Regions from separate parts of the Homo sapiens genome. Here regions 2, 3 and 4 are each linked to region 1. Evidence: fine-mapped expression QTL. A gene starts in region 1. Each other region holds a variant in brackets. All regions are shown on one strand. Distances are from middle to middle.

Region 1 (7,777 bases):
TATTTTATTAAAGACTTTGTGATAAGATATAAAATAGGTTCTCATCACAAAAGAAACTTAAATATATATTATCCATTAGATAGCTCCAGTGGTGTGCTGGTAAATGTTCAACAACTGACTCTTAAAGAAAAACGCATGCATTTATATACATACATATTTATTATAAATTTTTCTGATATAAAAGATTGTTACACACAATTTACTATTTGTAAATTTTACTATTGGTTCCTACAGACTGCTTTCATTGATTTTTGCAGAACTTTTGCAATCCATAGCCAACCTATGGTTCCGGCTGAACTGATTTGACAAATGGAGTTATATACCCATTTATTTTCTAATAAATCAATAACGTATTGTTATTGGATGTAATATGTAATCTATTATTAAAGTATTTGTCACCCTATTATATAATGAGTGTAGTACAGGCTATAGTCATTAAATTAAAACCTAGTTTTAGCACTAGATATATTGTTCATCAATGATGTGAGTGAGATTTTTCCTGAGTCAGAAAATAGTTTTCTAATATGTACTGAAATAATATTTTCTCAATTTGGGGGGCTATTCCCAATGTAATGGATATTAGCACCACACACTTTTAAGTTTATTCTGCATTATTTTGACATTTTCTTCATTACTTTCTTAAGTCTAATCAACTGATGAAACAATAAATAAAGCCCTGATTTGTATGTAAATTTTTGCCTGTATATTTTTCTTTCCTCATGGACTTGGGAAATTTTCTATGATCCTCATGGCTTTGCAGCTACTTACTGTATGCACCCTCACCTTGTTTGCAGCATTATCAGCTCCAGGACAGCCGAAATCCTTCTTGGTTCTTTCATACTATCGCCCACTGTGTCTAAAGTAGATTTTAAGTTAGTGTTACTTGAATTGCAAGTACTACTACCACTGAAGCAGCAACTCTGTTTCCATTGCTTGGGGAGAAGACCAAAAACACACATTAAACACCTGGAGAAAAAAAGTAAAACCACATTAAAGTGAGATTGTAGGAACTGACCAGAAATTTAGAAAAGAGAAAAACTCACTGCTGTGTGAAGAAGTCAAAGGAACTTCATGTTGACTTGAACAAGAAATTAAAGGAACCCCGGGCCTTGGCCTAAGGACAGACTGGAAATGGTGGTTTGGAGAGAAGAAATGAGGACAAAGGGAATGTGTGAGGAACAGTGGAAGGTAAAGTTGGCTGGATAAAATGAGACTTCAAAATGCCAGTTTGCGAAGCTTGAACTTGGTGCAATAAACAATCAAAGGCCATTTTAGATGTATATGAAAACAAATGGCATGGAAATGATATTGAAGCAGAAATCTGGTAGCATCCCCAGAACAGGAATTTCAGAAACTATTGCAGTGGCTTAGGTTTAAAAGACAAGAAACAACAAATGATCAGTTCCCCAGTGATCAGTGATAGGTCATGTTGATACCGTGTACCCACAGATACCAGGCAATGAGAAAGGCACATAATCTCTGTAGCATTCTTCCTAAACATCCACAGCTTCAGTCCAATCATGAGAAAACATCAGACAAACCCAAACTGAGGGATAGTATACAGAAACCAGTACTGTTCAAAAGTGTCAAGGTTTTTGAAGACAACTGACTGAGAAACTGTCACAGATTAGAGGAGGCTAAGAACACAGGAAAACTAACTGCAATATGGTATCCTGAATTGGGTCCTGGAATAGAAAACGGACATTAGTGGAACAGTTGGTGAAATTAAAATAAAATCAGTAACACAGTTAATAGTTTCGTATCACTGTTAAGTTTTTAGTTTCATTGGTTATATAAGCTGTTAACATAAGGCAATATGGGTGATGGGTATGTGGGAACTCCCTTTATTACCTTTGCAACTTTTCTGTAAGTCTAAAATCATTCTTTTTTTAAGTTAAAACAGCAAAACTACCAGTTCTTTTACCTGCTTCTAGCAGGTGCTCAAAGAGGGACAGAGCAAAACCTTGCAAAGCATGACATTAGAGGGTGTCCCAGAAGCAAGGGTCTTCTGTAGCCCCAGGCACTGCTGCTCCCAAACTGCATGGCCTTTCTTGGCAAATGATTTACAATCTCCGAACCTCAGGTCAATGTCTTAAAAACGGGCACAGAATGTCTTTTCAACAAATGGTACTAAGAAAACTGGATATCCACATGAAAAAGAGTAAATGTGGACTCATACCACATATGAAAATTAACTCAAAATGGATTAAAGGTCTAAGAGTTTAAATTATAAAACTCTTAGGAGAAAACATAGAGGAAAATCTTCCTAACATTGTATTTGGCTATGACTTCACTGCGACACCGAAAGCACACGCGACAAAATAAAAATAAAATAAAATAAAATAAGACCAGAAAAGCAAAGAAGGGCAGCATCCCTTCCCGTCCTGATAGCTGCCGGATTTTACCCCAATCGTGTTTCTGCTTCCAGGAGCTGTCCGCGCGTCGCCTCTGTTTTATCACTAAGGTTTTAATTGTGAATAAACAAGGAACTGGATTCGAATGATTTCTTAGTTTCTGAGATTTTTTTGTCTAAGCATCGTAGACTTCGTGCGTTCTCAACCCAACAGGAAGCGTCACATCTCAGTGAGCTTCGGCTCTCACAGCCCGAAACTGCAAGGAGCTCCTCTGCCCGGCCTCTCTTTACTCCTCCTCTCTGCCCCTCAGCTCGCTCATCTTTCTTCCCGCCCCCTCTCTTTTCCTTCTTTGGTTCTTTGAAGTGATGAGCTAGCGCAACCACAAACCATACATTCCTTTTGTAGAAAAACCCGTGCCTCGAATGAGGCGAGACTCAGAGAGGACCCAGGCGCGGGGCGGACCCCTCCAATTCCTTCCTCGCGCCCCCGAAAGAGCGGCGCACCAGCAGCCGAACTGCCGGCGCCCAGGCTCCCTGGTCCGGCCGGGATGCGGCCGGTACCCGCTCCCCGCCGGGAACAACCTCTCCACTCTTCCTGCAGGGAGCTGGTGCCAGCCGACAGCCGCGCCAGGGCCGCTCCGGGTACCAGGGTCGGATCGGGTGACGTCGCGAACTTGCGCCTGGCCGCCAAGCCGGCCTCCAGGCTGAAGAAGGACCCGCCCCGGCCTTGACCCGGGCCCCGCCCCTCCAGCCGGGGCACCGAGCCCCGGCCCTAGCTGCTCGCCCCTACTCGCCGGCACTCGCCCGGCTCGCCCGCTTTCGCACCCAGTTCACGCGCCACAGCTATGTGTCCCCGAGCCGCGCGGGCGCCCGCGACGCTACTCCTCGCCCTGGGCGCGGTGCTGTGGCCTGCGGCTGGCGCCTGGGAGCTTACGATTTTGCACACCAACGACGTGCACAGCCGGCTGGAGCAGACCAGCGAGGACTCCAGCAAGTGCGTCAACGCCAGCCGCTGCATGGGTGGCGTGGCTCGGCTCTTCACCAAGGTTCAGCAGATCCGCCGCGCCGAACCCAACGTGCTGCTGCTGGACGCCGGCGACCAGTACCAGGGCACTATCTGGTTCACCGTGTACAAGGGCGCCGAGGTGGCGCACTTCATGAACGCCCTGCGCTACGATGCCATGGTAAGACCCGAGCCCGCGCCCGGGATAGTAGTCCCGGACTGAGAGAGGAGCCGGGCTGGAAAAGCAGCGGATGGCAGAGTGTGGCAAGCCTAGGTCCAGGGCGCGGAGAGATGTGGGGATAAAGTGAGACTCCGGCCAGTGTGCCAGCTGGATGCATAGAAGTCCCTTGGACGATTCGTCTTAAACGGACGTTATTGCGCCCCCACTATGAGATGGGAGTATTTAGAGGAGCAGGACCCAGTCCTGCCTGCGAGGGGCTTAAGGTGGGGTGCGTAGAAGCACTGACAGTTATCCAGAGCTAGGGACTGAATCGGATCCCTCACGCAGCTCTCATTTACTGCTAGATCTTTCAAAGAATGCTTTATCTCAATCTAGATCTTTCGAAAAATGCTTTATCTCAATCTTATTGAAAGGGAAACCGCGTCGAAGAAGCTGAATAAATTAACAGGCACCATCCCCGCAAAAAGGGAGACGTGATAAGAATGGACACCAGATCTCTTTGACCCCGGAGCTTGAGAGTAATTAAGCTCACAGCTTTGGGGTAGATTCTCTGTTCAATTACCTTCTATGTGACCTTGAGCAAGTTATTTACTCTTTCTTGCCTCAGTTCTATCCTGTATAAAAATAAGGATTATAATTGTACATAGTGCACATAGTGTGGTCTCTATATTATTACCAGACACATAGTGTGGTGTCTATATATGTTGTTATTACCAGACACTATAATATAGGGTTAAGAAAAGGAAAGAAAGAAAGAAAGAGAAAGAAAGAAAGAAACTTCAGAGAGAGCCAAAATGTGGAAAGACTTGGGTTTCAAAGGATTTCAATAAAGTAGGTTTGGCGGCAGAGATTTAGGAAGAGTCCAACTTAAGAGATAATGGGCTCTTAAAACATGTGCAAAAGTTTAGTTCAAAGTCCCAAATGTTAGGTTAAAGGTAATGCCTTTTCTATTGCACTAAATTCTAGAAAGGGAGCAGAGGTGGTTGCACAGTAATAAATAAGTACAACCAAGATGTATATATGGTGGTTAAAAAAAAAATAAAACCACCACCCAAATTTAACCCTGTGTAAAAGCCTTGAGTAAAGGGATTCAGCAAGACTGTGGAGAAACTTGGGAGAAGAAAAAAGAGCTTTGGAAGAGGAAGAACTGAGAAATCTCCAGAGAAACGTCCAGAGAAATCTGTGAAGTCCACAAGTGTGGAAGGGAAAGGGAAGTGTGATTAGGCTGGGATACAGAAGGCTAACAGTACACTTTATATGAGAAGAGCTTAGAGGTCAGGAGAGCACAATGCTGAGGGGTTTGTTTGGTTTTATTTTCCCCTCTGGAAACTTGGAGAAAGGAGGACAGGAAAAGATGATAAGAGGGCACCATTGTTTGGTTTTAAAGGTCCCTCCCCAACCCCCCACAACAAGAAAGCTCATTTTAATGAGATGAGAGAAGGGGAGAAAGCTCCCTCCGTTCTGATGCTTTTGAGCTTATCAGGGACACCCTGCAGCAGAAATTCCAGCTGATCCTTCAGCCTTCAGAGTTGATGAGGTGGGGCTCACACACATCTGGATTTGAAGAAGAATCGTGGGTTTCAAGAACTCTGTGGTCTCTTAAGCATTGGTATTCCACAGCTACACTTCCCTGATACTTTGCACTCAGTAATGACAAAATAAATATTTGTAGAATTGAGTTGTTGCTACCCTGTGTCTCCACTTCCTCCCAGAAGGGTAGAATAAACTTACATGTGTTTGTTTTATTTTGCATATAAACCACGACTTTGTAAACTTTACTTTTTGTGACACTCTTTTCTCCACAATTGTGTGAACCCTTTTTAGTGGAAAAATAAGAATGAAGAATTCCTAGTTTTCCCTAATAATATTTCCCTCTTGTAAGTCTAGTTGAGCTCCTGGTGTTAATCATGGTATCAAATGTTTATGACAGGACATCTAGGTGAGGCCTGAGTAAACTGCTGTAAGTTACAGCCTATCTCTTCTGTGTTTGTTCAGAATCCTTTTTGTTGGATGAAATTACTTTCTTTCAAATTTTGCTCAAGAAAATTGAATTGGGTTCTGAGGAAAAATAGGCTACTTACGTAATGTTGGCAGGGGGTAAAGATTGGGAGCGGATCACATGGCAAGGTTAGATGGCTGTGTCCTCAGGACTTACTCTGTGCAGTTTGGGGGTGTGTCAAACATGATTTGACGTGCATAAAATCCCAGTTCTGTAGTGCTAAAGCATGTGCTAAAGCTCTGCTGTACTCCAGTATTGCACAGATGTTTCACTGTCAATTGTTTATATTATACTAACCCTCAGAGAATTTATTGCTGTTGTGGTATAAACGTTCCTCCACTGTAACCACTCACCGCATATTGATTCCTAGGACACTGGGGATTCAAATCAGGGTGGAAAACAGTTGTGGAGGGGCATCTCCAGTTTCCTGGAGACTGGACCTAGTTCAAAGGAGCCACATAAAAGGACTGAAGCATATGGAGGACAAAGAGGAATTTCCTAGAATCCAGCTAAAACACAGGAGTCCCCTCGAGCAGGAACTTCCAAGGAGGTGTACACTTTCTAGACCTACTGGAGTAATCCTGATTGCTGTAGAGGACCCAGGGCAATCCTGGAGACCCCCTGGAACCACTACTAGGCAGAAAACTGGGAAGAGGATGGCAAAACTCTCCAGTTAGTGTAGCTGTCTCAGTGGAAGGACTGTTGTCCCCTGAGGCACGAGGAAGACAGCATGGAAGCACTGACAGTATGCGCTTGGCCTGGTTACTTTCTCTGAGCTTCATGTTCCTTAGCTGTAAAACAGGAGTGATAACCCCCATCTTGCAGAGGTTTTGTGAGGAATACATGAGATAATCCCTGCTGGTGCTCACTGAAAGTGAGTTTCATGTGCCCTGGGTGGGGAGGAGGGGAATTGTGAGGAAGGGAAGGTTTGGGTTGTGCATCAGATTATCTGATTCTCACAGCCTGGCACAGTCTACCACCTGCCTGCCCTCTACCATCTTACCTAAGTACCATTGCCTAAACTATTTTTGCTATAGTTACTCATTGAGCAGACTTATGAAATCTCCCCACAGCACAAAACTGAAGGTATCCACCTCCAGAGGTGAGATTCTCACCAAGACAGGCTGTGGGGAAGGTAGCTTTGAGCAGGTCTCTAGGGTCCCCTAGAAAGGTGCCTTTTCTCTGCTTGGCTGCTGCTTCTGAGGCCCTGGCTGCTGAGCCCACTTCCTGCCCATAAGGCTGCAGCCTTAGCCCTAGCCAATTGCTCCTAAATGGGGGAGGCAGCAGCCAGGGTGGGAACCATGGCCCCCGCCTTTAACTCACCCAGGGGACAGGTTAGTCAGATAGATGGTCCTTTGTTCGCCACCCTCCACCTCCCACATAGACAACATTCTAATGTGTTTGATGGACTGCATATAGTTTTGTTTCTACATGCACTTTCAAAACCTTTGTGTGCTTATATTTTATAATGGCATACCCAGTCCTGTTATTTAGCCCTTTCTGTTTCTTACTTTTGTCCTGAACTTATTGTTTTTATGATTTGTCCATGTTGCCCTAGATGCCCTTATACCTATACATCACTGTGAATTGTGCTCTGTGTATTTTACCCATCTCCACGTATTTTACCCATCTGCTCCCTGGCTGATGGGTTTGGAGATGGCGTCTAACACCCTGCCTCCACAAATAATGCTGCTCCAGATATCTTCCTGGATGGTCTCACCAGATGATTTCTACCCAGGAGCAGAATTGCTGGCCACAGGGCATACTTTGAGTACTACAAGACTGGTTTCCTCAATGACTGACATCCTCCATTCTCTTCCACCTACTCCCATCCCCAAACAGGACATGTAAATTTCTATATTTTACCTATATATCATGGCAGTATCCAGCTTTATTGTAGGTGTAAAATACACATTGCTGCTTTATCATGTACTTTTCTAATAACTAGTGAGTTTGGACATTTTTTGATATGTTTGTTAACTTTTTAAGCTTCCTCTTCTCTAATTGCTTATTCATATTCTTTGGTATTTTTTAAATTGGGTTAGCTTTATATTTTTTGACTTTCAGGAGTTATAGGTTTTGATCTGTGATCAATTTTAGACATTGCAAATATATTATGATGATATTAGGTCTATTAATTTTGTCCATGGTATCTTTCATTGAACAGAAATTCTTCATTTCTTGTAATTGAATTAATCTTTTTTTCCTTGTGGCTTGTGCTTTTGAAAGTTTGCCTAATAG
Region 2 (7,777 bases), 74 kb before region 1:
ACTAAGCTGCAGTTCTCAGCAAACATTAATTAAGCTGCCTCTGAGAGCCAGACACTGTTCCAGGCTCTGAGGATGCAAAGGTAAGAGTGTTGGTGTGAGCTTTTATATCCTTGAGACCAGCTTTTTTCATTTATGTTCAAAGAAATAGAAATCTATTTTATTTATTTTTTTCATTATTTTCTTTTTTTTCAACTTTTATTTTAGAATGAGGCCAGCTTTTGAGCACATAAAATATTTTTCTAGGCCAAGTGCGGTGGCTCAAGCCTGTAATCCCAGCATTTTGGGAGGCTGAGGCGGGTGGATCACCTGAGGTCAGGAGTTCAAGACCAGCCTGGACAACATGGTGAAATCCCATCTCTACTAAAAATACAAAAATTAGCCAGGCATGGTGGTGGGTGCCTGTAATCCCAGCTACTCAGGAGGCTGAGGCAGGAGAATCACTTGAACCTGGGAGGCAGAGGTTGCAGTGAGCCAAGACTGCGCCATTGCACTCCAGCCTGGGCAAGAAGAGTAAACTCCATCTCAAAAAAAAAAAGACTTTTCTAGAGTCTAACTTTATTAAGAATTAATATTAAGTTTACTAAAACTACAAATTCAAAAAGTTTTTTCTTAAGCTTTCAAATTAAAACCCTATTATTCTATTTATAATTTGGTAAATTTTAATTTTCACAAAAAGAAACTTTGATCTACATTTGGTCCCATTTGTAAACACAATTTATTAACTCCCTTTAATATTTTAAACTGAATTTACAAAAGAAATATATTCAAATTTCTGCGTTCTTCAAATGTCTACCAAGCAAAATGCTTCCCAAGTATTCAATTTTAGTAAAGTCTAATAAAATTAAATGTATGAATGTAGTTAATCTTATGTTCTTTTAAACATTGCCATGCTATTTGTAAACAGTAAAATTCTGAATGAAAAATGATAAATCCAGCCAGGCACAGAAAGACAAACCTCACATATTCTCACTCATCTGTGGGGGATAAAAATTAAAACAATTGAACTCATGGAGATAGAGAATAGAAAGATGGTTACCAGAGGCTGGGAATGGTATTGGGGGAGAGGGGGAATAGGGAGGAGGGATGGTTAATGGGTACAAAATAATGTTAGAAGGAATAAATAAGACCTATTATTTGCTAGCACAACACGGTGACTATAGTAAAAAATAATTTAATTGTTCATTTAAAAATAAAGAGTACAATTCAATTGTTTGAAATACAAAGGATAAATACTTGAGGTGATAACTACCCCATTTACCCTGATGTGATTATTATGCACTGCATGCCTATCTAAAAACATCTTAAGTAACCAATAAATATATACACCTATGATGTACCAAAAAAGTTAAAATAAAACATTTTTCTAGAAAAATTATAAATCCAAAATCAACTAATATTTAAAAGTTGGATTAGAAAGTTAATCGGATAGATACACTTGTATACTAAATTATTGTAAACATTAACACATTTTAAATACCAAAAATACACAGATTTTTATTTTTCTCTCTTTCTTAGTTTTTAAAGGTGTGGTATTATTCTGTTGCCCAGGCTGGAGGGCAATGGTGCAATCATAACTCAGTGCAGCCTCAGACTCCTGAGCTCAAGCAATCCCCCTGCCTCAGCCTCCCACATAGCTAGGACTCCACACCCAGTTAATTTTTTTTAAATTTTTTGTAGAGATGAGGGGGTTCTCACTATGTTGCCCAGGTTGGTCTTGAACTCTTGACCTCAAGCAATCCTCTCACCTTGGCCTCCCAAAGTGCTGCAATTACATGTGTGAGCCACCACTGCCTGGCCCAGATTTTTCTACTAATTTTTCTGTAGCCAGACGGACATACTGAGACCCTTTTGCAACTCTTTAACAAGGGGAATTTCATGCTGGTATCTGACAACTCCCCACCCAGATTGCTCATCTACTTGATTCGATATTCATAATAATATGTTTCCCATCTATCAGGCTGTCTTAGGTTTGGAAAAGTTATCTGATGGATTCTGCAAATCTGTGCTGGAGGATCACAACACTGAAATCATGCAGATAACAGAAGGACCTACTCCCTGCATGCTCCGAAGGTCCCTAATTACCTGCTTTTCCACGCCCAGAGCCCAGGCCTTCCATTCACTACCACCCCTGACTTTTGCTTCCAAGCTGTCCTGTCCACATACAAATGGGAATGGTCCTCTCATAATCTCATAATGTTGACATTGCCAAAAAAGTGTTAATATGTGGTCACTCTCGAGGGTTTGAGCATTGTCTTGGTCAGTTCAGAATGCTATAACAAATATACCATAGACAGCTGGGTGTAGTGGCTCACAACTCTGGTCCCAGCTACTCAGGAGGCTGTGGCAGAGGATGGCTTGAGCCTGGGAATTTGAGTCCAGTATGAGCAACATAGTGAGACCCTATCTCTTAAAAATTTTATTATCTATAGCGTGTAGTGTGTATAACACTGCATTGCATGTAACACTTCACACTATGGATACATAATTTTTTTTGAGATGGAGTCTCACTCTGTTGCCCAGGCTGGAGTGCAGTGGCATGATCATGGCTCACCACAACCTCTGCCTCCCAGGTTCAAGTGATTCTCTTGCCTCAGCCTCCCAACTAGCTGGGATTACAGGCATGTGCCACCACACCTGGCTAATTTTGTATTTTTAGTAGAGATGGGGTTTCACCATGTTGCCTAGGCTGGTCTCAAACTCCTAACCTCAGGTGATCCACCCACCTCGACCTCCCAAAGTGCTGGGATTATGGGCATAAGCCACCCCACCCGGCCTAGATACATAATTTTTAAGAGACAGGGTCTCACTATGTGTATGTGTATAAGTGTATATATGTATACACATGTGCCATAGATTGGGTGGTTTAAACAACAATTATTTCTAACAATTCTAAAGACTGGGAAGTCCAGACTGAGGTGCTCGCAGATCCCATGTCTGCTGAGGGTCCACTTCTGAGTGTGCCAATGACAACCTTCTCCTAGTATCCTCACTTAAGGGAGAGCAGAGAGAGAGGGAAAGGAAGCTTTTATCTGTTTCTGGTAAGGGGGCTAATCCCATTTGTGAGGGCCTCACCTTTATGACCTAACCACCTCCCAAAGGCCCTACTACCTCTAAATACCATCATGCTAGAGATTAGTCTCTAACAAATGAATTTTGGGGAACACAAACTTTCAGTCCATAGCTAGTATCTTAACTGATTACTCCTAAATATACATGGCAAACTGACAGTCCATGAGACAACTTAAGTTGAAGACATATTTATTGGCCCAAGTAATGTTGATCTAGTGCTTTAAAATTAGGATACTTCACAGAGAATCAGGACATCCCACATCTCTTGAAAACTTAGACCACTGAAATCTGTAAACCACTATTTCTGCATGGCAAAAACTGGCTGGAGATGAGCAGCAATTTTCTTCTTGGAAAGACACTGCCCTCCTCTATTTATCCAGGCCCATCATCTGCTTCACTCCAACTCTCCTCTCTATTTACACTGCCCTACTGGAACAGGGTTTGAGTTTTTCCATGTTTCTTAATGAAGGCAAGGTCAATGGTAGAAATTTCAGACATCATAGATATTTTTGATAAAGTTCTCAAAGCTGTTAATAATCACACCGCCACTGTCTATTAATGCTTATGGGTGAGATCAGCCTGCATCACAGTTTCAAAAGCCATGCAGTTCTGACCATCACTTTAAGAATGACACATATTCATGCCTGTAATCCCAGCACTTTGGGAGGATGAGCTGGGTGGATCACAAGGTCAGGAGTTCGAGACCATCTGGCTAACACAATGAAACCCCATCTCTACTAAAAACAGAAAAAAAAAATTAGCTGGGCATGGTGGCGGGCACCTGTAGTCCCAGCTACTCAGGAGGCTGAGGCAGGAGAATGGCATGAACCCAGGAGGCAGAGCTTGCAGTGAGCCTAGATAGAGCCAATGCATTCCAGCCTGGGCGACAGAGCAAGACTCTGTGTCAAAAAAAAAAAAAAAAAAAAAAAAAAACAAAGAATGACACATATTATTACTCAAAATATTATATTCAAACTGCAAATATTCTTTGAAGCAGAAGATTAAAGATGAATGAACCTGAGCCAAATAGGAACAGCTCCAGTCTCCAGCTCCCAGCGTGACACAGAAAATGGGTGATTTCTGCATTTCCCCCTGAGGTTCTGGGTTCATCTCACTGGGGCTTATCGGACAGTTGGTGCAGGACAGTGGGTGCAGCCTACCGAGCGTGAGCTGAAGCAGGGCGAGGCATTGCCTCACCTGGGAAGCGCAAGGGGTCAGGGAATTCCCTTTTCTAGCCAAGGGAAGCTGTGACAGACACCATCTGGAAACTCGGGTCACTCCCACCCTAATACTGCGCTTTTCCAATGGTCTTAGCAAATGGCACACAAGGAGATTATATCCCACGCCTGGCTCGGAGGGTCCCACACCCATGGAGCCTCGCTCATTGCTACCACAGCACTCTGAGATAGAACTGCAAAGTGGCAGCGAGGCTGGGGGATGGGTGCCCACCATTGCTGAGGTTTGAGTAGGCAAACAAAGCAGCCAGGAAGCTCGAACTGTATGGAGCCCACCACAGCTCAAGGAGGCCTGCGTGCCACTGTAGACTCCACCTCTGCGGGCAGGGCATAGCCGAACAAACGGCAGCAGAAACCTCTGCAGACTTAAATGTCCCTGTCTGACAGCTTTGAAGAGAGTAGTGGTTCTCCAAGCACGGAGTTTGAGATCTGAGAATAGACAGACTGCCTCCTCAAGTGGGTCCCTGACCTCAGAGTAGCCTAACTGGGAGGCACCCCCCAGTAGAGGCAGACAGACACCTCACACAGCTGGGTACCCCTCTGAGACGAAGCTTCCAGAGGAACGATCAGGCAGCA[A/G]CATTTGCTGTTCAGGAATATTTGCTGTTCTGCAGCCTCCGCTGCTGATACCCAGGCAAACAGGGTCTGGAGTGAACCTCCAGCAAACTCCAACAGACCTGCAGCTGAGGGTCCTGACTGTTAGAAGGAAAACTAACAAACAGAAAGGACATCCACACCAAAACCCCATCTGTACGTCACCATCATCAAAGACCAAAGGAAGATAAAACCACAAAGATGGGGAAAAAACAGAGCAGAAAAGCTGAAAATTCTAAAAATCAGAGCACCTCTCCCCCTCCAAAGGAACGCAGCTCCTCACCAGCAACGCAGCAAAGCTGGACGGAGAATGACTTTGACAAGTTGAAAGAAGAAGACTTCAGAAGAGCAAACTTCTCCGAGCTAAAGGAGGAAGTTCGAACCCATTGCAAAGAAGCTAAAATACATGAAAAAAGATTAGACGAATGGCTAACTAGAATAATCAGTGTAGAGAAGTTCTTAAATGATCTGATGGAGCTGAAAACTATGGCACAAGAATTACATGATAAATGCACAAGCTTCAGTAGCCAATTCGATCAACTACAAGGAAGGGTATCAGTGATTGAAGATCAAATTAATGAAATGAAGTGAGAAGAGAAGTTTAGAGAAAAAAGAATAAAAACAAATGAACAAAGCCTCCAAGAAATATGGGACTATGTGAAAAGACCAAATCTACATCTGATTGGTGTACCTGAAAGTGATGGGTAGAATGGAACCAAGTTGGAAAACACTCTTCAGGAGATTATCCAGGAGAACTTTCCCAAACTAACAAGGCAGGCCAACATTCAAATTCAGGAAATACAGAGAACACCACAAAGATACTCCTCGAGAAGAGCAACTCCAAGACACATAATTGTCAGATTCACCAAAGTTGAAATGAAGGAAAAAATGTTAAGGGCAGCCAGAGAGAAAGGTCGGGTTACCCACAAAGGGAAGCCCATCAGACTAACAGCTGATCTCTCATCAGAAACTCTACAAGCCAGAAGAGAGTGGGGGCCAATATTCAACATTCTTAAAGAAAAGAATTTTCAACCCAGAATTTCATATCCAACCAAACTAAGCTTCATAAGTGAAGGAGAAATAAAATCCTTTACAGACAAGCAAATGCTGAGAGATTTTGTCACCACCAGGCCTGCCCTAAAAGAGCTCCTGAAGGAAGCACTAAACATGGAAAGGAACGACAGCTACCAGCCACTGCAAAAACATGCCAAATTGTAAAGACCATCGATGCTAGGAAGAAACTGCATCAACTAACAAGCAAAATAACCAGCTAACATCATAATGACAGGATCGAATTCACAGATAACAATATTAACCTTAAATGTAAATAGGCTAAATGCTCCAATTAAAAGACACAGACTGGCAAATTGGATAAAGAGTCAAGACCCATCAGTGTGCTGTATTCAGGAGACCCATCTCACGTGCAGAGACACACATAGGCTCAAAATAAAGGGATGGAGGAAGATCTACCAAGCAAATGGAAAACAAAACAAGGCAGGGGTTGCAATCCTAGTCTCTGATAAAACAGACTTTAAACCAACAAAGATCAAAAGAGACAAAGAAGGCCATTACATAATGGTAAAGGGATCAATTCAACAAGAAGAGCTAACTATCCTAAATATATATGCACCCAATACAAGAGCACCCAGATTCATAAAGCAAGTCCTTAGAGACTTACAAAGAGACTTAGACTCCCACACAATAATAATAGGAGACTTTAACACCCCATTGTCCACATTAGACAAATCAATGAGACAGAAAGTTAAAAAGGATATCCAGGAATTGAACTCAGCTCTGCACCAAGCAGACCTGATAGACATCTACAGAACTCTCCACCCCAAATCAACAGAATATACATTCTTCTCAGCACCGCATCACACTTACTCCAAAATTGACCACATAGTTGGAAGTAAAGCACTCCTCAGCAAATGTAAAAGAACAGAAATTATAACAAACTGTCTTTCAGACCACAGTGCAATCAAACTAGAACTCAGGATTAAGAAACTCACTCAAAACTGCTCCAGTTTTTATATCCAGATATAATATCCAGAATCTACAAAGAACTCAAACACTTCTCAAAAGAAGACATTTATGCAGCCAACAGACACATGAAAAAAGGCTCATCATCACTGGTCATCAGAGAAACGCAAATCAAAACCACAGTGAGATACCATCTCACAGCAGTTCGAATGGCGATCATTAAAAAGTCAGGAAACAACAGGTGCTGGAGAGGATGTGGAGAAATAGGAACACTTTTACACTGTTGGTGGGACTGTAAACTAGTTCAACCATTGTGGAAGTCAGTGTGACAATACCTCAAGGATCTAGAACCAGAAATACCATTTGACCCAGCCATCCCGTTACTGGGTATATACCCAAGGGATTATAAATCATGCTGCTATAAAAACAAGTGCACACGTATGTTTTTTGCAGCACTATTCACAATAGCAAAGACTTGGAACCAACCCAAATGTCCATCAATGATAGACTGGATTAAGAAAATGTGGCACATATACACCATGGAATACTATGCAGCCATAACAAAGGATGAGTTCATGTCCTTTGTAGGGACATGGATGCAGCTGGAAACCATCATTCTCAGCAAACTATTGCAAGGACAGAAAACCAAACACTGCATGTTCTCACTCATAGGTGGGAATTGAACAATGAGAACACTTGGACACAGGAAGGGGAACATCATACACTGGGGCCTGTCATGGGGTGGGGTGAGGGTGGAGGGATAGCATTAGGAGATACACCTAATGTAAATGACGAGTTAATGGGTGCAGCACACCAACATGGCACATTTATACATATGTAACAAACCTGCACGTTGTGTACGTGTACCCTAGAACTTACAGTATTAAAAAAAAAAAAAAAGA
Region 3 (7,777 bases), 33 kb before region 1:
GGAAGAAGTCTATCTGGTGGCTCAGTTCTCATCATTTTTTGAATGCTAATTAGAAGCAGATCCACCTATAGGCAGGTTGGAGATCAGTACAGATGTTAATAAACAGTTTTATGTGATCCATTTCCTGTGCACTTCCCTCTCTGCTATCTTCCTAGTAGTTTCTAGTTCCCTGGGTCTTCTTGTGTTCAGTCCATCAGCAAAAATCCACCCACTTCTGTGGTTGAGCTACATTTGGGGACCAAATGACAAGGGAGAGAGGGGACATTATAAAGAGGGTTGGAGGTTGGAACTGCAGCTCCACCAAATGAAAAATGAAGGCTCCCCTCCCTTAGAGTTTTAATTCATGTAGTTTTCCATGATGAACACCGCCATCCCCATAAGGTTGTGTAGGGCTGGGATAAAAGAGAATGGAGAAAAAGGAGGGGTGGGGGGGGAAACTCAGGTAAATCCCTCTCTACTCTTTCTGATCTTTAGAATTCTTTTTTTTTTTTTTTTTTGAGACAGAGTCTTGCTCTGTTGCCCAGGCTGGAGTGCAGTGGCACAATCTTGACTCACTGCAACCTCCACATCCTGAGTTCAAGTGATTCTCTTGCCTCAGCCTCCCAACTAGCTTGGATTATAGGCATGCGCCACCACCAGGCCCAGCTAAGTTTTTGTATTTTTAGTATAGACAGAGTTTTACCATGTTGCCCAGGCTGGTCTTGAACTCCTGGCCTCAAGTGATGCACCCACCTTGACTTCCCAAAATGCTGAGATTACAGGCATGAACCACCGTGCCCAGCCAAGAGTTCTCTTTTAAGAGTTCCTCAAGCCAGAGCTAAATGTATTTCCTTGACTTTCTTTCTGTTCCACAGTGGTACTTCTAGATTTTGACCATGTTGAGAGCCAGCTGGAGATCCTGGAGGAAAAATATTGTAAACTAACTGCTAGTTTGGTGCTACTTGAAATTTTTCTATTCTTCCGCATCTGCCTATGACTGCAGGTAGAGGGGCAGTAGCACCATCCTCTGAAGAAAGGAACCAGCCACTTGGTAGCAGGTTGACTTTGTTTCATCCTTCAACCCTCACAGGGGCAGTCATTCATCCTGACTGCTAACCTTACTTTTGTAAGCTCCAGGAACACAGATCACTAAGAATTCTAGAGGAGCTATTCCCAGAAGACATACAAAGACTGCAGATCCAAATGACTCAAGAGGTGAAATGTAATGTATGCTGTGGTGTACTTCTCAGATGCCTTCACCTTAGGTCTGAAATACTCATTCCCCAACAATGCCTCCATGCTAAAAGTGTTGGTAACTAATGGGTCTCAGCTGAGCCCCTCTCTAGGCATTACCCTGGAGAGCCAAGCCAAAGGCTACCTTACCCAAGACCACACCGTATCCCTGGAGTCAGCTCACATTCAGTGACTGTTCAAAGCCGAGCATAAAGCTGGGGCAGAATTAATGCAAGGAAAGACCACTCTGAAAGGCCAGGATTCCCTGTGGAACTGACTAAGTCTTTAGTTTAACGCCTTCCTTTGTCCAGTCCCACTTCCTTTATTCCTCCACAAGTGTTGATAGGAGGGTACTGGCCAATTAACCTCCTGCACACAAATTGTCCCAGAGTTTGCTTCCTGGGGACAACGTTATATACTAGGTCTAAGCATGGTATTTATGACAGGAATGGGTTCAGTAATGGGCAAGTAACTTGATTTAGGTAAATACAGTATGCGGAGGTTTGTTCTGGGATCTTCTGGGAAATTTTCCTGACACTAGAGAAAACCATAGGAAGAGATTATCTCTCCTTGAAGTTAAATCTGAACAAGAACTCCTGCAGCTTCCATTGCTGCTGACAAACATATTTTGACCCCCAAAACAACCAGTCTCAGAACAAAGATTATACTGTGATTAACAGAATGGAGAGATGGAAATAACCTGAGTTCTTAATGATGCTGAGTTGCAAGATCAATGCACCCTGAAGGCCACCCCATTTTTAGACTTCTCATTATGTAGACCAATAAATTTCTTTATTATTTGAAGCAAACTAGGGGTCTCTTTTTTGTCTGTTTCTGCTACTTACAGCCAAAACATCTGACTGATACAGGTGTGCATCTCACTGACTCTTCCTTCCTATACTGCTTCTGGAGATTTTTATAAACATTCAAAAAATATTGAGAAATTCACAACCCAGAAAAAAAAACTGAACTCTAACTAAGAGCAGGTGGTGGCTGATGGTAAGTTTTCTTTTCCTTTCTTCTTCCTTTCTTTCTTTTCTTTCTTCTATGGGGCACCAATAATACATTTTCTTAAAAAGGGGACCTAGCTAAACAAATATATTTTATGTACAAAAAATAATAATTAAGACCACAATAATTTGTGTAACTGTTTGACAAAAATTATCTTAAATTATACTTTTAGGATCAAAGTACAATCTAGGCCATGAATTTGATGTATAATTGGAACTTCTGAAAGCTCCCTCTGTAATAAACAGGTAAAGTCAGACACGTGGTAATTGCAAAGGGTATTTATATGCCTGTGGAGGAGGAAGAAAGAGATTTTTGCAAAATTGCTTCAGAAGGAAAATGCCAGTAAAACAGATATAGTTCAAAAAATGAACTGTTTGCAACTTAAAAGATAAACAATCCATTATGAAAAACCAAGAAAATGTTACTCATCCCCACACATGGTATCTTGACTCAAACTCTGAAGGTCAGAATAAACTGATTTTTGTCAGGTCAGAAAGGAAAGAGTTTTCAAGAAGCAAAGTGCTCTGCCCTTTCACACAGAACAGCACATTGCCATTCCTTCAGATTCAAGAATATGACAATGGAACACTCTGTTCTGATTTTAACTGTTTTACGAGTCTCTTGTATCTCCTGGATTGATTGTGTTCTTTTCTTCCTCAGCACTAGTCATTTCAAAACTGTTTCTTCAGGCATTTAAATACAAAATCTAAAGATTCCATCATTGTGGATCATAGACAAATCACTGGGCTGAATTTAAGACACAGGCTTTAATGTCATGCCCACCAACGAACTGGGTGGCATTGAACAAATCTCTGTCTCTCTGAGCCTCCATTTCATCATCTCCAAAATGATCTCTTCTCGCTCCATGATTATAGATTTCTTGAGAAATGAGAGGAGCTGTCTGAGTGCTGGGTGGCTTGTGGCAATGATAGCCCATTTTTCTGTCTACCCACCCCCCAACATTTCACACTTCAAAGTCTTAGCCCAATTTATAGCCTGGTCAGTCTGTTATGGGGAAGCTGGAGGCTGAGGAGATTTCTTCATAAATACTCAAGACAGAAACAACAAATCCTCTTCTTCCAAGTCTACAATCAACCTCTATTTTACTTTTGGTGCCTTGAGAGTTAGCCCACATCATCAGTGCAGAAGAAAAATGAATCAAACACTTCAGTTCCTTTTCTGCTGTGAATTTTAGAAATGATCTCAGAGGTCATTCTGTAGCGAGTCTGACTGATTTTGTATAAGTTAAGGTGGTGGTGAGTAAGGACTGAATAAACCTAGAGTCCTTCAGAGACGTATTAATAAGTTTGAGTCTTCAAACCTATACAAAATTTGCTCTTTGTTCTCTAAGTCTAACCCCAAATACCTAGGAAGATCCTCAGGCCACAGCATCAAAGCCAACCCCATGACCCACAGCACCATAGATAGAAAAGCTGGCTCAGAAATGCAATCTTACCAGGAAACAGTGACTGGAATCCATGGAGTGCTTTGCAAGGTACCTGGCTTGGACACTTAAAAGGTTCCATGAGAAAGAACAGAGGGAGAAGGGAAAGCTGCTCTAGACTAAAGGCTATGAAAGAAACATAGCAGGCAAATGTAATGCATTAACCTTGACTCTAATGACATTCTGAAAACAATTTAGTAAATTTATTTATTGACTATGTGTTGGGTATTTTTGAATTAATGTTCCTTAGATGTGAAATATCCCTATTCAATTGTGATTGTTGAATAAGAACATTATATGGGAGTGATGTGTCATGATGCCTGCATACTACTTTCAGATGGCTTATGAAAGGAAATGTGTGAGTGAGTGAGTGTGTGTGTGTGTGTGTGAAGATGCTGCTAGCTTTAAATCTAGGAGAGCAGTATATGGATGTTAATTTTTCTGGGTGTTTTTTTTTCCAATTTTTTTTCAAGCATTTAAAAACTTTTTTTAATTTAAAAAATTTAAGAAAGACAATTCAGCCAGGCTTGGTCAGAGAGCATGTGGGGCTCCAGGGTATCTCATGGCTATATGCCCTTAGGATGTTTCTTTTTCCCAGGTGCCACTTTATTTCTAGTTCTCTGAGCAAAAATCATTACTGACATTTGTCAGGGCCAACCACAGAGATTTAAATTGCAAAAAAAAAAAAAAAAAAAAAGGAGGGGGATGGGGTGGGTGCAGGTACTGCAGTAGGGACATATTTTATTCTCCATTTACAGAGGAGAAAACCAAAGCACACTTAAGTTAGCTAACTTGCCGGAGGCCCCTGCAGGAGCCACACTGATTTTCAACTCAGATTCCCCTGAGTCCCTTTGACCAGTTCTCTGTAATCTTGTAGCTACTGTATCCTTCACTTCCAATAGGCCTCACAGGCAGAGGACTAACCCCTGGCCTGCTGGAGCCATTTCACCCAGACTCCAAATTCAGGAGAACCAGAAGTGCTAAGGACTTAGGTCCTTCCAGAGGAACCCATAGTAATGACTGACTCATCAGTCTCAGGAATTCCTTCCATTTCAATGCAGTCCCAGAAAATAAATCCTCCCTCCACTGTTGTCATACTTTCAAAGACCAACTGCGTATTCCCCAAATCAAACCACTTCCCTCCCAAA[C/T]ATCCTGATATCCCACATGCATGCTTGTCATTGCCTCCCACACCATCTTCCATTGCCATGGATGAGCAGTGCTTCAAGATAAAGTTTCATAATTACAGGTTTATGTTGTATTCGTTCTCTTTCAGAAAAAAAGAATTTTGTCTCTAAGTTGTCCCAGTGTCCTTCCTTATGAGGAACATGTATGAGCACAATGCTTGGACTTTGTGAAATCTATTCTTATGGTTCTGGGATTTCTTCTGTTTTCTTCCTGAATCTTGGCTGAATTCCAGAACTAAGATTGGCTAAATAGCCATACAGTCTGGGTTAATATTGTTATTAGCAGGAGGTGAAGATCCAAATATGTGATAACTAGTACAGCACAGAGGGCACCACCTAAGAGTGGGTGGGTGCAGGCAGATGGTGCGCCAAAGCAGGATCCTGGAGGACACTCCTCTCACTATGCCGCATATGAGCCCTTCAGAAGCTGGACTGTGAGGAGGGCTAGGGGATCCCTTGGCATCAGAGGAGCACTCAGGTGGGACTTGTGGCAACAGTTACTTGCTGTCAGGTACAGAAGTATTTCTATATTTAACAGTCATGATAGCTGTGCCACTGAGGACCACCTGACCATCAGTTCTGATTGTGTTTTAATGATGAAAATAACAGGAAAAAATTATTCTGAGGCCATGTAAAAGAGAGAGGATGAGAATGAATGAGTAAATGAATACAAATAGAGGATAAAAGATACTAAACACAGATACGTTAAACTCTATCTCTCACTCTCTCTCTCACACACACACACACACACACACACACTCACACTCAGGAAAACAAGTGAAGTGCCACACCTACAGCAACAAGAATTTTGTGGTCAGTCTCTATTTGCACTCAGCTTTAAAACTTCAGTTCCCCTTTCACTAAAAGTTTTCCCTTTTAGTGAAAGGCTGTTTGGGTGCTTTCTGCTGTTGAGGTTCCTGGCCAGTCAGCCAGGAGCTGACCTCAGGAAAATGTGAAACATTTTTCAGCCAGTGGGGAGGAGCTGGTCAAAGTAGGGAGGAGTGCACTAACGAAAAGCAATAATGTTATTCAGGAAAACTTAAAAGGGGAAAAAGCAACACTAGGCATCATAAGCATGGAGGAACAAAGAGGCCTGGGAGAGCAGAACATTTGCTTCTGAGCTATCTAAAAAAATTTTCCAAGTTCTTGGGCCCTAAAAATGTCCTGGGTCATCAGAGTTTACACTGACCAACCCTGTCACCTCAGCCCTTGGTCAGCAGGTGCCATGAGCACAGCAGCACTGTAGGACCTAAAGGAAAAAGAGGCTTGATTTTGAGAGACAGGTTTAATCATGTTTTCCAATTAGAATCAACAAGGATTTTTCCTTTGTTACTCACTAATGAGTACATTAAAATCCAGACATAGTGAGAGAATAGGTTAACTAAACAGAGAATGATCTACCTGGCCAAGAGGTGAAAATATTGCTACGAATTCTAGGTGGGGACAACCAACCACAGGGTCACCACACAGAAGACAAACCTACATAAGCAGAGAGCTCCAAAACTGCACAAGTGAAAAAGTTAACTTTTGTGACTGTCTTAGTCCATTCCTGCTACCATAACCAAATACCACAGACTGGGCAAGTTATAAATAATAGAAACTTATTTCTCATGGTTCTGGAGGCTAGCATGTCCATCCAAGATCAAGGCACCAGAAGATTTGGTGTGTGGTGAGGACTCACTCTTCACTTCAGTTATGGCACCTTCTCTATGCATCCTCACATAGAGGAAGAGGCAAATAAGCTCCCTCAGACCTCTTTTATATGAGCACGTATCCCTTGTGGAGCCCTCCTGACCAAATCACCTCCTAAAGGCCCCACCTCTTGATGCTATTGCATTGGAGATTAGATTTTAACATATGACTTTGGAGGTGGGGAAGGGCACAAGCATTCAGATGATAGCAGTGATGCTTCATCACACCATCTATTCGATGGCTCTAAGATTTATCTCCAACCGAATTTGTCATCAGAAAGGATTTTCCTGATTTTATTATGATGCCAGTAAAATAAGAAAAATGAAATGACTTACCAAAGATTGTTTGTTCTCCTGATGACCTCAGAGACAGAAAGAATACTAAATGCAATCAAAATAGAGTGACGGTATTAGTAGACATTAACCTAAACAACCACATCCAACTGTGTCAGGAGTGAGACAACCTGAGCAGAGGACAAGGATAGGAAAAACAGCTGTGAACCTAAGACAAAAGCCAGAGGGTTGGAACTTCTGGCCTTCTCTTGGGAAAGTGAAGTGAGGTCTGTACATGCAGAAGTAAATCAGTTGACAAAGAAGAAGCCATAAAAGCAAGAGTCAAAAGAAGCAAGGACAAGGAGAAGGAAGGCTTTCCAACTTGACTCCAATTTCTAGGATACAGAGGTTGTGCCAAGACTTATGCAGAAAGGCCTAAACTGACCACTGACTTTTGGGAAAACTCTTCCCAGCTCCTACTGATAATGAAATCATTGGCCAATGTTGCACTGGTTCCCCTGTAATATTCACTCTTGTTTCTGGAGGGTCCTTAGGGGAAGAACATAACGGCTCTAATTTGACACTAGTTCCAGGTCCTAATAAGAAGATATTCAACTAAAACATAGTCCTTTACCTCCAATATTTTAATGTAGCAAACAGCTCACAACTTCAGTATACCTTATTTAGATAAGAGGAAACAGTAGGGTCAATTACACATCTGGAATTTTAGAGAGGATGCTTTCTTTGTGAACCAATATGAGAAGTTCAAATGAATTAATACATGCTTGGGAATTTAAGTTTAGATCTTCAATTTGCAGTGAAAATTACTAATACTTGAAAGAATGTTCATAACTATTTATTCTATATTTATTATATTGAGAAAATTCTAAATATAATCAAAATCTATTCTACAAATCTAATATTTCACTTTGGACTAGAAAGAATGTAAAAGAAGGAGGAAC
Region 4 (7,777 bases), 140 kb after region 1:
AAAAATACTTTAAATTTCATATGGAAACAAAAAAGAGCCTATATAGCCAGACAATCCTAAGCTAAAAGAACACAGTTGGAGGCATCAAACTGCCTGGCTTCAAACTATACTACAAGGCTACAGTAACCAAAACAGCAAGGTACTGGTACCAAAACAGATATATAGACCAATGGAACAGAACAGAAGCCTCAGAAATAACACCACACATCTACAACCATCTGATCTTTGACAAACCTGACAAAAACAAGCAATGAAGAAAGGATTCCCTATTTAATAAATGGTGTTGGGAAAACTGGCTAGCCATATGCAGAAAACTGAAACTGGACCCCCTCCTTACACCTTATACAAAAATCAAATAAAGATGGATTAAACACTTAAACGTAAGACCCAAAACCATAAAAACCCTAGAATAAAACCTAGGCAATACCATTTAGGACACAGGCATGGGCAAAGACTTCACGACTAAAACACCAAAAGCAATGGCAACAAAGCCAAAATTGACAAATGGGATCTAGTTAAACTAAAGAGCTTCTGCACAGCAAAAGAAACTATCATCAGAGTGAACAGGCAACCTACAGCATGGGAGAAAATTTCTGCAATCTATCCATCTGAGAAAGGGCTAATATCCAGAATCTACAAGGAAGTTAAACAAATTTACAAGAAAAAAACAAACAACCCCATCAAAAAGTGGGCGAAGGATACAAACAGATCCTTCTCAAAAGAAGACATTTATGCAGCCAACAAACATATGAAAAAAAGCTCATCATCACGGGTCATTAGAGAAATGCAAATCAAAACCACAATGAGATACCATTTCATGCTAGTTAGAATGGTGATCATTAAAAAGTCAGGAAACAACAGGTGCTGGAGAGGATGTGGAGAAACAGGAACACTTTTACACTGTTGGTGGGAGTGTAAATTAGTTCCACCATTGTGGAAGACAGTGTGGTGATTCCTTAAGGATCTAGAACCAGAAATACCATTTGACCCAGCAATCCCATTACTGGGTATATACCCAAAGAATTATAAATCATTCTGCTATAAAGACACATGCACACGTTTGTGTATTGCAGCACTATACACAATAGCAGAGACTTGGAACCAACCGAAATGCCCATCAGTGATAGACTGGAAATACTATCACCATGAAATACTAGGCAGCCATAAAAAAGGATGAGTTCATGTCCTTTTCAGGAACATGGATGAAGCTGGAAACCATCATTTTCAGCAAACTAACACAGGAACAGAAAACCAAACACTGCATGTTCTTACTCATAAGTGGGAGTTGAACAATGAGAACACATAGACACAGGGGAGGGGAATATCACAAACCAGGACCTGCTGGGGAGTGGGGGACTGGGGGAGGGATAGCATTAGGAGAAATACCTAATGTAGATGATGGATTGAGGGTGCAGCAAACCACCATGGCACATGTATACCTATGTAACAAACCCACATGTTCTGCACATGTATCCCAGAACTTAAAGTATAATTAAAAAAAAACAAACAACAACAACAACAAAAACACTGAAAACCAATAAGCTAAGCATTCAGAAACTTGGGGGGAAAAACAATAAATCCAAACACATGAAAAGGAAGGAAATAGTCAAGAGCAGAAATCAACAAAATAGACAACAATGACAAATTAACAAAATATAAGCTAGTTCTTTGAAAAAATTAATAAAACAACCAAACTTCTAACTGGATACTAATGGAGGTTAGTAGGGTACCAATTATTACTCTAAAAATTGATAAAGAGTAAGCATTTATCCTACTTTTCCAATTTGAACTATCTATCAGAATAACTAAATAGACCTAACGGATGGAGTAAAGCAATTCTACAAAAAAGAATCAAACTTAAAAATACAGAAGAAATGAGAGAATTCGAGAATAACCATGTTGTAACCCATAATTAAGTAACTGATTCAAGAAATAAATAAATGGTAAAACCAAAGAGTAAGTTTGTTGGACACAGTATCGGTGGACATTAACTGAACCCATTAAAAGTGAAGCAATCCTATCTTACATATCCACTGATGTGATGCAATGGAATGTACATGGCATCACTAAAGTCTTCTTGCACCACTCCCCGCAACAGGAAAAAAAAAAAAAAAAAACTAAATCTAATTGAGCCTATAGATCAAACACTGTGACTACCAAAAATACAAATGTGAGGATTAAAATACAAGACACTACAAGGAAACCACAACAAAATCCAGAATGTGAACAAATGATCCAGTTTCCTCAACAAGTCAATGGCAAGGAGAAAAAAATGGTGAGGAGGGATCTTCCAGATCAGCAGTTGACAAATGATGGCCTGTGGACAAAAGTATACCTGTTTTTGTATGCCCCTCATACTAAGAAAGGTTTTACATTTTTAAAGGGTTTTTTAGAAAGAAGAATAAGCAACAGAGACTTAGCATGGTATACAAAGCCTAAAATATTTACTACCTAACACTTTACAGAAAAAAATGTGTCAACCCTTATTCTAGATTACAAGACATTTAGAAAAGCTTGAGATGTAGGAACCAAATAGGAGTACAACTTGTTTAGATACCAATTAGAACAACTGCACTATATATTTTTACCCAATAGGGAAAATTTTTATTATGGAGTAGTTATTAGATGATATTAACCAATTATTGTTAATTTTGTAATATTATAGTTTTGTATGGAAGTGATTTTTTTTTTATTTCTATCTTTTATAGAGACATGGTCTTGCACTGTCACCCAGGCTGGAGTGTCGGGGCACAATCATATTTCACTGTAGCCTTGAACTCTTGGCTCCAGGAATCCTCCCACCTCAGCCTCCCGAGTTAGCTAGGACCATAGGCTCGCTACTTTTTTTTCTTTTTTTGGTACAGACAGGGTCTTTCTGGCCAGGTGCATAATTTCAGCAATTTGGGAGGCCGAGGTGGGCAGATCACTTGAGGTCAGGAGTTTGAGACCAGCCTGGCCAACATGGCAAAACCCCATGTTGGGAGTCTCCACTAAAAACACAAAAATTAGCCAGGCATGATGGTGGATGCCTGTAATCCCAGCTACCTGGGAGGATGAGGCACAAGAATTCCTTGAACTGAAGAAGTGGAGATTGCAATGAGCCAAGATCACGCCACTGCACTCCAGCCTAGGTGACAAAGTGAGACTCCATCTCAAAAAAAAGAAAGAGAGAGAGACAGTGTTTTTCTATGTTGCCCAGGTTCATCTCCAACTCCTGGCCTCAAGTGATCCTCCCACCTCCACCTCCCAGAGAGCAAGAATTACAGGCATGGGCCACCTCACCCACTCTATAAGACATTTCTTAAAAAGATAAGGCAAAAAAAAAAATATGGCAAAATATGGATAGTTGTTAAAGTTGAGTAATGGGTGCTTGCAAGTTTTTTACACTCTCTTATGTATGCTTGGAAATTTTCAATATCAAAAGTTAATTAAAAAGACAAACCTCTAGCAAGACAGATCAAGGATACAAATATACAAAACACAGAATGAAAAAAGTAACCATAGCTATACTGAAATAAAAAATAAGACTATGAACAACTATATATTAATACATGGAAAATCTATATAAAATAACTTTTAAAAAATTTTTTTGAGACAGAGTCTCGCTCTGTCATCCCAGGCTGGAATGTAGTAGCATGATCAGAGCTTACTGCAGCCTCAACCTCTTAGGCACAAGTAAGTGATCCTCCCACCTCAGCCTCCTGGGTAGCTGGGACTACAGGCACACACCACCATGACCAACTACTTGTTTGGAGAGACGGGGTTCCGCCATGTTGCCCAGGCTGGTCTCGAACTTCTGGGCTCAAGTGATCCTCCCACCTTGGCCTCCCAAAGTGCTAGAATTACAGGCGTGAGCCACCAAACCCCGCC[TTAAA/T]TAAATTGTTTAAAAGATAAAAATGCAACAACTAGTAAGTGAAAAATTAGAGAATTTGAATAGAGCAATTATCATTAAAGAAATTAAAATAGTAATTAGAATCCTGGTTGCCAATAAAAGGCCCCTGGCCCAAATGGTTTTACCAAACTTTCATGAAACAGATACATACCTTATACAAACTGCTTCAGCAGGGGAGGAGCGGGGGGCAGGGTGTGTGTGGAAACTGCTCATTTAAAGGGCTAGGCCAGGCACAACAGCTCACACCTGTAATCCCAGCACTTTAGGAGGCAGAGGCAAGTGGATCTCCTGAGGTCAGGAGTTTGAGACCAGCCTAGGCAATATAGTGAAACCTCGTCTGTACACAAAAAAACTTAAAAAATTAGCTCAGCCTATATATAGTCCCAGCTACTGGGAGGCTGAAGTGGGAGGACTGCTTGAGCCCATGAGGTGGAGGTTGCAGTGAGCCAAGATCATGCCACTGTCTAGCCTGGGTGATGGACTGAGACTGTCTCAAAAAAATAAATAAGGCCAGGCTCGGTGGCTCACGCCTGTAATCCCAGCACTTTGGGAGGCCGAGGCAGGCAGATCACAAGGTCAGGAGACCGAGACCATCCTGACTAACACGGTGAAACCCCGTCTCTACTAAAAATACAAAAAAAAAATTAGCCGGGCGCGGTGGCGGGCGCCTGTAGTCCCAGCTACTTGGGAGGCTGAGGCAGGAGAATGGCATGAACCCGGGAGGCGGAGCTTGCAGTGAGCCAAGATAGCGCCACTGCAGTCTGGCCTGAGCAAAGAGCGAGACTCCGTCTCTAAATAAATAAATAAATAAATAAATGGGCTAATATAATTTTAATTCCTAAATCAGATAAAGACAATATACATTGGTCTCCCCGCAGTCAACAATTCACATACAACTTTTTACTCCCCCAAAACTTAACTCCTAATAGTTTACTGTTGACCAAAAGCCTTACCAATACAGTAATAGTTGGTTAGTACTTATTTTGTATATGTATTATATACTGTATTCTTACAATGATGTAAGCTAGAGAAAACAACATGCTATTAAGAATATCATAAGGAAGAGAAAATATATTTACTATTAAGTGGAAGTGGATTATCACAAAGGTCTTCATCTTCATTGTCTTCACACTGGGTAGGCTGAAGAGGAGGGGTTGGTCTTGCTGTCTGAGGAATTGCAGGGGTGAAAGAGGTAGAAGGGGATGCAGAAGTGGCAGGCACACTCGACTTTATAGAAGTACATCATGATTTCTGCCCGACTTTTTGCCGTTTCATTTCTCTAAAAACATTTTTATATAGTACTGATCTTTCTTCTACCATTTGCTTTAGATTCAGTGCCAGTATCAAAGAAGGGTCCATGTGATAAAAGAAGTGAAAAGCAGTCTTGATAATTGAAAACCTTCTGCCATATTGTCTACTGTCAATTTGTGTTCTGGCACCACTTTTTTTTTTTTTTTTTTTTTGAGATAGAGTCTCACTCTGTCATCCCAGCTGGAGTGCAGTGGTGCCATCATGGCTCACTGCATCCCAGGCTCAACTGATCTTCCCCACCTCAGCCCCCCATGTAGCTGGGACTACAGACGTGTACCTCCACATCCAGCTAAATTTTTTGTATTTTTTGTAGAGACAGGGTTTCACCGTGTTACCCAGGCTTGAACTCCTGGGCTCAAGTGAGCCATCCACCTTGGCCTCCCAAAATGCTGGCATTACAGGCATGAGCCACTGCATTTGGCCCCTGGCACTGTTTCTTCAAAGTCTTCTTCCTCACTGTCTAGCACTGGTTCCAAAGCACTCATCTTTATCAAGTTATATTATGTTAATTCCTCTGGTGTGATGTCTACTGGCTCTTGAATTTCTGTAAGATCCTTATGCTGAAAGACCTTTTTTGTCATATCCACAATCTCTTTCATGATTTCCTTGATTGGCTCTGGTGTAAATCCTGTGAGGTCACGCACAACACCTGGGCATAGTTTCTCCACTAGTAATTTATTGTTTCAAGTCTGATGGCTTTTACGGCTTTTTCTATAACAATGACTGCATCTTCAATGGTGTAATCCTTCCAAACTTTCATGATGTTCTCTCTATTGGAGTTCTCTTCCACAGCACTGACAATCCTTTCCATAGAGTACCATGTGTAATGCCTTAAAGTTCTTTATGAACCCCTGGATTTAGAGGCTGAATTAGAGACATTATGTCTGGGGACAAGTAGACCACTTCCACAGCTTCGATGTTGAACTCATGGGGTTCTGGGTGGCCAGGGGCATAGTCCAGTATCAAAAGAATTTTTAAAGGCAATCCCTGCTGGCAAGGTACTTTCTGACTTCAGGGACAAAGCATCAATGAAATTAATCCAGAAAGAATGATTCTTGTTGTCCAGGCCTCCTTATACAACCACAAGACTAGCAGCTGGTACTTATCTTTTTCCTTCAAAGCTCGGGGGTTAGACACTTCATAGACAAGGAACCCAACTGCATATCCATAAAATAGAAGAATTTGCGTACACCTTCCTGCCTTAAATCCTGGTGCTCATTTCTCTTCCTTACTAATAAATGTCCTTTGTGACATTTTTTCCAAAACAGGTCACTTTCATCAGCATTAAAAGCTTGTTCAGGGCTGCTCTGCCTATGGTGTAGCCATTCTTTTATTCTTTTGCTTTCTTAATAAACTTGCTTTTACAAAAAAACACCCACTCAGGAAGATATATTTAATACTTTCTCCTCAATGATTTTCTGAATGGTGTTTGGGAACTCATCTTCTGCCTGTTGGTCAGCAGAGGCTTTTTCTCCGGTTCTCTTGACATTTTTTAAGCCAGATCTCTTCCTAAAATTATCAAACTATCCTTTGCTGGCATTAAATTACCCAGTTTTAGATCCTTCTCCTTCCTTCTGCTTTAAGCTGTTATACAATGACTTCACTTGTTTTTGAATAGCATTAGTTTATATGTATGCCTTTCTCATAGCAATTCTGCCCCCACATAAAAGCTAAATTTTCAATAAAACATGAAAAGGTACTTTGCAAAAAGTACGAAGTTTTCACACCTGCTGGCATAGCTGCAGCAACAGCTTCATGAATTTCCTTTTCTTTTTTCACAATGGTCCTTACACTCAATTTATTTATCTTGAAATGGCAGGCAATCACAGCTGCAAACCTCAATCCATAGTACATACCAAGCATTTCACTTTTTCTGTAATGTCATTACTTTTCTCTGCTTCTTGGGAGTACTCCCAGTATCATTAGTGGTACTTTGTATGGATCCCATGGTATTCCACTCGGATTTCTGACTTCATAGGGGTCAGTGGCCCTAATCTCTGCACTGTTCAAGGATCAACTTCATATAAAATTATTTTTTATTTCAGAATAGATGTACCTAGTATACCCCATCTCAGAAGGGCCCATGTTTTCTTGTATAACAACATTTCAGAGATACTCTTATCATCTGTGTGTGTGTGTGTGTACGTGAATACACACATAAGTTTTTTTTTTTTTAATCACACATATACACTGAAAAGCATGCTACATACACCATCTGGCACCTTCCAAAAGATTTTTCCTGGAAAAGGGATACATAATCATGGTTTTATTCAAGACAGTTCTAGTGTTTAAAATCACTTTTGCTGACTACAGCAGTAACAAATGGAAAACACCAAAACATATGCAAAAACAGCTTCACTCATAAACCCAACCACTCAGGTAACATTTACCTGTATTTCCTACCTTCTCTGCATAAAAGAAATACAGGGTACAGGTTAGATGGTATACAGATCAGATGGCATCCTATGACTTTTTAATAACACACAACACTAAATGTTATGACCATAAGTAGATGACCTCAGAAATCTAGTTTAACCTGCTCCTACTAGATGGCTCTCCTACCTTAGAAACCTA

The links.
Region 2: its variant is fine-mapped to the expression of NT5E in whole blood (INTERVAL, PIP 0.91).
Region 3: its variant is fine-mapped to the expression of NT5E in whole blood (TOPMed, PIP 0.95).
Region 4: its variant is fine-mapped to the expression of NT5E in whole blood (TOPMed, PIP above 0.99).

What each region holds. Positions count from the first base shown.
Region 1 is chr6:85,446,942-85,454,718 of GRCh38, forward strand. It overlaps NT5E (5'-nucleotidase ecto), which reads left to right and starts at 3,142. Exons shown (of 9, transcript NM_002526.4): 1 at 3,142-3,537. The coding sequence starts at 3,199. RefSeq lists a silencer at 2,935-3,204.
Region 2 is chr6:85,373,131-85,380,907 of GRCh38, forward strand. No RefSeq gene overlaps it. Among named protein-coding and RNA genes, the nearest start is that of LINC02535, 28 kb to the right of the region's middle. The variant A/G (reference allele first, on the strand shown) is at 4,881.
Region 3 is chr6:85,413,518-85,421,294 of GRCh38, forward strand. No RefSeq gene overlaps it. Among named protein-coding and RNA genes, the nearest start is that of LINC02535, 13 kb to the left of the region's middle. The variant C/T (reference allele first, on the strand shown) is at 4,816.
Region 4 is chr6:85,583,892-85,591,668 of GRCh38, forward strand. All of the region lies in intron 1 of SNX14 (sorting nexin 14), which reads right to left. Among named protein-coding and RNA genes, the nearest start is that of SNX14, 6.1 kb to the right of the region's middle. The variant TTAAA/T (reference allele first, on the strand shown) is at 3,871.